Homo sapiens: one gene and its partner. The protein of the gene in region 2 purifies or fractionates together with the protein of the main gene of each other region. This does not show direct contact. Each region holds a gene or a part of one and is shown on either strand. Other genes may lie near its edges. The genes, in order: EGLN1 and EEF1AKMT1.

What was found.
Region 1: the proteins of EEF1AKMT1 (region 2) and EGLN1 purify together in Homo sapiens (affinity purification with mass spectrometry; 2 studies listed by BioGRID and IntAct, with this or other methods). This does not show direct contact.

Annotation. Positions count from the first base shown.
Region 1 is NC_000001.11:231,369,959-231,373,788, reverse strand, and holds part of EGLN1 (egl nine homolog 1), read left to right. Parts: intron 1-3,090; coding exon 3,091-3,227; intron 3,228-3,830. UniProt on the Homo sapiens protein: Cellular oxygen sensor that catalyzes, under normoxic conditions, the post-translational formation of 4-hydroxyproline in hypoxia-inducible factor (HIF) alpha proteins.
Region 2 is NC_000013.11:20,760,181-20,764,010, forward strand, and holds part of EEF1AKMT1 (EEF1A lysine methyltransferase 1), read right to left. Parts: intron 1-3,830. UniProt on the Homo sapiens protein: Protein N-lysine methyltransferase that selectively catalyzes the trimethylation of EEF1A at 'Lys-79'.

The DNA of each region.
Region 1 (3,830 bases), on a different chromosome or scaffold from region 2:
ATACCTGTAGTTAACAACGTAGTGTTGTGCACTTAAAAATTTAAGAGGGTAGACTCCATGTTCAGTGTTCTAAACACACACACATACACACACACACACACACACACACACGCACACACGAGGTTAGGGGAAGGGAAACGGAACTTTGAGAGGTGATGGATATGTTTATTACCTTGGTTGTGGTGTGTCATGAGGGTGTGCGTATATATCCAAACTCATCAAATTGTAAATGTTAAAGATATGCATTTTTGTATATCAGTTATACCTCAAAACCATATAAAAAAGTACTGATATATCTTAAAAAGTGGATTCATTTATTTTCAGATGTTAGAGCACTTATCTAAAATCTAACTTTTTTAGAAAGGTGACCTTTATTAAAATATTTTCCTTTTAATAGTTTTTAGAAAAACATTTCTGAGAACAGTTGTTTTATAATGGCTTTTGGGGGAGATTATCTATGGATAATTGTTAAGGATTATTTGCTATGTTATTCTTGGCATTTTTGTAAAAATATTATATGGCATTGAGTTGTTTAATTGAATATTGGAGGCAGGATTCAGTCTTTCCCTGATTATTAAAAAACTGGAAGTTTATCAGTACTGACAAGCCCTGTAAAACCAATTAGAATGTACAATATATTTAATCTCTCTTGTTTTAAATATATATTTCCTTAATATTAGCCTGAGTCTCATTAAATTTAAATGATTTTTAAAAAATATGTCATATATTACTACACTAGAGACTGTACAGACTAATTTTTTGGTTGATTTTTTAAAATCTTAAGTATAACATTCAAATAGAAAAGTGGCTTGTATAGTTCAGTGGATTTTCACAAAGTGAACATACCTGTGTAGCCAGGGTGCCTTTTTTTGTTGTTTTTAAGTCAAATAACCTTTAAAAAACCTCTTTCTCTGCATCCCCCAAAACACACAAATGGAAACTGCCTGAGTCTTAAATGTGCAAAAACCTAATCCTGCCCTAAAAAGTGTTTTAAGTTTAGAATATGCTCACAGTGCTTCACTAATCTTTCTAAAACACACTGATTTAAAGAGTTTTCTCTGCCCTAGTCCAGGTTCAAAATGGAGCTGACCTTTCTGCTGAGTATATATTGAGGCATGTCAACAAGCATGGTTTTTCTGTTACAGCTTTCAAAGTTTGAAGTAGAGAAATAAATTTTGTAATTGAATTTGAGCCCAAGGCACAAAACAGATGGGTGTAACTTTAGTTAAAATTTAAAAATTGACTTTTTTTCAGATTTTGTGAATAGCTAGAAAGCTAGAACTGTGTTTCATCAGCTTCTAACTTCTAGATTTTGTTAGGCTTTTTCTAGGCTGATCTTATAATTTCTATAATACTTAGTCAGGGTCATTAATGTGTAGGTTTTAAATTAGGACATAGGCAGAGAAACGTCCCTAGTGTTTTTGTGTGTAGAATAGAAATTTTCCATGCTAGATTGCACTGAATATGTAGTGTGTCAGTTGTTCTGGATGCTAGGGATGTAGCAGAAACGGAATTAGCCCTGGCAGAGCTTAGGATCTATTGGAGGATACAGATCAGAAAGATTGACAGTTACAGATAGTTATGCAAAGTGTCAAGACAGATTGCTATGGAGCACACAGGAGGGCCACCTAATTCAGAGGAGGAAGAGTGGAAGTGTCAAGTAGCCATTTCACTTAAAACATTTTCAGCAGGTCACCTGTGGTACTCCCAATGACTTGAGTCAAAGGGAAGGGAGCAGGAAAAAAGGAAAGAAGACATGTTCTCAGTTTGGAGGTTCTTTAGATGTTTGCATAGTAGCCTGGGGAATCACTCTGAACAACACTGGAACCTGAGGAAGGTTGGCAAGGGTATCAAAGTAGCTAGAATTTAACTTACCTGACAGTGAGCCTGATAAACCTTTTCTTTAACTATAGATTCTAGGTTTAGGCTCAAACGCCATGTTGTCCTGACCAGGTGTTAGAGTTTCTTTAAATTTTAAGAGTCTACCTGCTTAGGAGTGTAGTTATTCAAGAGTAAGGAGCTACTTGGTTGGTTGGGTTTTGCCTATCCCCAGATCGTAAACCCCGCAAGGACAAAGTCTGTCTGCATTATTCCCTACTCTGCACCCAGAGCCCACCACAGTTCCCAGTGCGATTTGATGCCTAGTTGGTGTTTAGGTAAATAATAATCCTTTATGGGTAGAATCAAGTTTCACAAGCAGGTAGTCATCTGTGCATCAGGCCCAGTCTGGAAAGGGAGAGCCACAGGTTCTAATGAACTATATGCTGATGGTGATGGTGACGACGACAATAATGATGGTCATAATAAATGATGACACTTTCTACTGATATACTGAATTATTTAAGTAAGAGGTATTTGTGACTATCCTATTGTTTATTGAATTTTAAAGTATGGTAAACTATTTGACATAATTTATTTCTAATAATAATTTTGTCAAAATTTCTTGAAATCTATCTATTTGAAGGGTGGGTTAAGCAAATCATTAACATACAAAAATAAACGTTTAGTAGTTTTAAAAGCTTTCAAGCATCATTTTAAGACTTTTAAATTCAGATAACATTCTTGTGTTTCATCAGATATTTATAAAAATCCCTAAAATGGCTGGGGACAGTGGCTCACACCTGTAATACCAGCACTTTGGGAGGCCGAGGTGGGCAGATCACCTGAGGTCAGGAGTTCGAGTCCAGCCTGGCCAACATGGTGAAAACCCATCTCTACTAAAAATGCAAAAATTAGCTGGACATGGTGGCGCATGCCTGTAATCCCAGCTACTCGCGATGCTGAGACAGGAGAATTGCTTGAACCTAGGAGGCGGAGGTTGCAGTGAGCTGAGATTGTGCCACTGCACTCCAGCCTGGGTGACAGCGAGACTCCATCTCAATAAATAAATAAATATCCCTAAAATAAGAACTAAATTTGTCCTTGCATCAGTGCATATACTTTTAAAATTGCAGCTCATCTTCATACTTTATTGAGACGTATTTGTGAATAATCCAATTAAGACATTGAAATTGTCTCTTTTTTTCCCCCTAAATTTAATCTTGTAGCATTTTTGGTTACTCCTGCTTACATATTTGGCTCTTTTCCTAGGTAAGTGGAGGTATACTTCGAATTTTTCCAGAAGGCAAAGCCCAGTTTGCTGACATTGAACCCAAATTTGATAGACTGCTGTTTTTCTGGTCTGACCGTCGCAACCCTCATGAAGTACAACCAGCATATGCTACAAGGTAGTATTCCTTTTCAGAAAAAATTGGTTTAGAGTATGGTAGGACAGGAGGGAATCTGTAGAGTAAACGTGAAAGCTTTCTAATGAGTATTTTCCTGCCAGGTACTTTTCACAGTCATTTTAATTTGAATAATTGTATAAGATTTATGTTGCACAGTCATCTGAATTCAAATAATTATATAAGACTCATTAACAGTTAGTACTAAATGTGTCTTTCTTTGCACAGCCACTCTGAAGAAAGGGAAGCACAGGCCTTCCCATCTTTCTAGCACTCTCTCCGTGCTTTGTGCATCTCTTAACTACTATCCATGCTTTGATTTTTGTAAGAGTATTTTACTTGGGAGAGAGAAAGATCAAGAAGGAAAAGGGTTTTTTAAAAGGTGGTGAGGGACAACATAGGAAAATGGATACAGAGTAGAAAAATCAGAGGTAACCAGAGAGTAGAAGTGAAGAGAAAAACAGAAGAAAGAAAAGTAGAGAACAGGTTACCATGTGTGGGAGTTAATGTTAGAAAAATGATCCTATTAGCTTTACAAATAATGAGCATCTGTTTCATTATACTTTTTCTACAAGGTATTTGCAACCTATTATATTTAGTGCTTTA
Region 2 (3,830 bases):
GCGGGTATGAATGTAAGTTAGCTAATCCTATGTAAAACAAAAAGACCCCTGTACTAGGCTGTTTATTGCAGGACTATTCACAATAGTAAAGCCATGGAATCAACCTAAGCGTCCTATCAAAGATGGGCTGGATAAAGAAAATGTGCTACATATACACCATGGAATAGTACACAGCCATAAAAAAGAGTGAAATCATGTCCTTTGCAGCAACATGGATGCAGCTAGAGGCTATTATCCTACGTGAATTAAAAGAGAAACAGAAAACCAAATACCACATGCTCTCACTTGTAGACGGGAGCTAAACAATGGGTACAGGTGGACATAAAGACAGAAATAATAGATACTAGGGACTCCAAGAGAGGAGCCGGGAAGAGTGGGGGAAGGATTGAAAAAAACTACCCTATCAGATATTATGTTCAATATTGGGTGATGGGTTCACTAGAAACCCAAACTCCAGTATCACCCAATATACCCTGCACATGTATGCCCTGAATCTAAAATTAAAAATAAAATATGTTTTAAAATTTAAAAATATACATACTCTAAAAAATTAAAAAGAATACACAGATAAAACATCAAAATAATGGACACACTTAATGCTGATGAGAAGGTAGTGATATTGGTATACTCTCTAATTTAGATAACAATTTAAATTGGCATAATCTTTTGGAAAAGAATCTGATAATTTGGACATAAATATTTCTATTTTTCTACACCAATTCTCATTCCTAAGCTTTCTACTCTGAAATAATCACAGATTCACAGGAATGTGCAAAAATAATGAAGGTCCATCCCATGTATCCTTCCACCTATTTTTCCACAATGGTAGTAACTTATATAACTACAGTGCATTGTCAAACCAGGAAATGAACAGTACAATCCACAGAGCTCGTGCAGTTCACCAGTTTTACACACATTTATTTGCAGGCGTATGCACATGTGTATAGTTTTATATAATGATATCACGTGTAGATTCATGAAAACACTTCCATGGATAAGAGACAGAATATTCCAGCACCAAAGAGATGAGTTGTACTACCTTTTTAAAGTCATTCCCATCCTCTCCCACCTCAATCTCCATTCTTAACCCCTGGAAAGCATTTGTTCTCCGTTTCAATAATTTTGTCACTTTAGATAAATGGAATCATACATTATATAACTTGAGATTGTCATTTTCACTCAGCATGGTTTAAAATTTACCCAGGTTGTTCTGTGTATCAATAGTTTATTCCTTTTTATTGCTGAGTAGTAATCCATAGTATGGCCACACTTAACCATTCACCCACTAAAACATTTGGGTTGTTTCCAATTTTAAGGTATTACAAATAGAGCTGTTGTGAACATTCCTGTAAAATGTATAGGAATTTTCATTTTCATTTCTCTGGATAAATGCTCAAGAGTATGATGTTGGATTTTATGGTTAGAGTGTGTTTATTTTGAGGACATCAAAAAATTTATTTCATGATGATACATTATAAGAGGGTTTCATCAAATGAAGAACTGAATCCCTGTACTATGAGGTTTACTGTGGCCAGAGAAGTCAGGATTCTCTTTGCAGTCATGTAGTTGTTTTTGAAATGCCTATTGAAGTGAAATGTGCAAATTTTAAAACATTTGTATTGAGATCTAATTCATATACCATACAATTCATCTATTTAAAGTGTATAATTCAGGTGGAATGTGGGAGGCTGAGACAGGAGGATCACTTGAGCCTAGGAGCAGCCTGGGCAATACAGTGAGACCTTGTCTCTACAAAAATGTTTTTAAAAATTAGCTGAGTGTGATGGCATGTGCCTGTAGACCCAGCTACATGGGAGGCTGTGGTGGGAGGATCACTTGAGTCTGGAGGCATAGGATGCAGTGAGCCAAGATCATACCACTGTATTTCAGCCTGGGTAACAGAACGAGAACCTTTATTTTTCGGGGTCTTCCAATCCATAAAACATGGCACATCTCTCCATTTATTTAGTTCATCTTTGATGTATTTCATCAGTCTTTTTTTTTTTTTTTTTTTTAATTTGAGGCAGAGTCTTGCTCTGTTGCCCAGGCTGGAGTGCAGTGGTGCATTCTTGGCTCACTGCAACCTCCACCTCCTGGGTTCAAGCGATTCTCCCTGCTTCAGCAGCATCCCCAGTAGCTGGGATTACAGGCACCTGCCACCACGCCCAGCTAAATTTTTTTGCATTTTTAGTAGAGATGGGGTTTCACATGTTGGCCAGGCTAGTTTCGAACTCCTAACCTCAAGTGATCCGCCCACCTCGGCCTCCCAAAGTGCTGGGATTACAGGCATGAACCATCGTGCCTGGCCAGGACTTCTAGTGAGCTGAATAGGAGTGATAAGAGCAGATATCCTACACTTGTCCCAGATTTTAAGTGGGAAAGCATTCAATCTTTCACCATTAAATATGATGCAGCCACAACCTTCTGGGCTCAAGTGATCTTTCCACCTCAGCCTCCCAAGCAGCTGGGACTACAGGCATGCGCCACCATGCCCGGCTAACATTTTTATTTTTTGTAGAGATGGGGTCCCACTCTGGTGCCCAGGCTGGTCTCAAACTCCTGAGCTCAAGTGTTCCTCCTGCCTCAGCCTCCGAAAGTGCTGGGATTACAGGTGTGAGTCACTACACCCAGGGTGTAGATGTTCTATGTTAAGATGAGGACATTCCCTTTATTAGTAGTTTGCCAAGTTTCATCATGAATGGGTGTTGAATTTTCAAATAACTTTTTGATATCAACTTATACGATCATGTGATTTTTCTTTAACCTCATGATATAAATTAAACTGATTATCTATTAAACCAGTCTCACATTCCTGGAATAGGTTCCACTTAACTGATTCTTCTTATGTATTGCTAAATCATATTTACTAATATTTTGCTGAGGATTTCGTCACCTATCTTCATGAGGTATATTTGTCTATTGTTTTCGGTCTTTGTATTGTCTTTGGTTTTGGTAACAAGGTAATATTGGTCTCATCAAATAAACTAGAAATGTCTCCTCTTCTATTTTCTGGAAAAGACTGTGTACAATCAGTGCTAACGCAATAAACATTTGGTAATTTTTTTCAGTGAAATCATGTGCTATGGATTCAATTGACACACCACCCCCCTCCCACCCTGCACCCCATTTATATGTTAAAGCCTTAACCCTCATTGTAATTATATCTGGAGATGCTAGGTTGGTGCAAAGGTAATTGCTGTTTCTGCCATTACTTTTAGCCACCCAGTCTACGGTATTTTGTTATAGCATCCCTAGCATTTAAGGCCCGAAATTTTTGTTTTTTTTTTTTGAAACAGAATTTTGCTATTGTCGCCCAGGCTGGAGTGCAATGGCTCGATCTCAGCTCACGGCAACCTCCGCCTCCTGGGTTCAAGCGATTTTCCAGCCTCAGCCTCCCAAATAGCTGGGATTACAGGTGCCTACCACCCACCCTGGCTAATTTTTGCATTTTTAGTAGAGATGGAGTTTCACCATGTTGGCCAGGCCAGTCTCAAACTCCTGACCTCTGGTGATCTGCCCGCCTAGGTCTCCCAAACTGCTGAGATTACAGGCATGAGCCACCATGCCTGGCCTGAAAATTTCTTGTATGAGAGGCCTTTAACTGCAAATTCAATTTAATACTTACACGGCTATTCACATTATCAGTTTCATATGGGGTGAGTTCTCGTAGTTTGTAGTTTCAACGAATTGGTCTGCTTCATCTAAGTTGTTAAAATTTATCTGGATAGAGATGTTTATAGCAGTCCTCAATTATTTCTAATGTCTTTAGGATCTGTACTGATATCCCCCATTTCATTCCTAATGTCAGTAATTTCTGTTTTCTCTTTTTT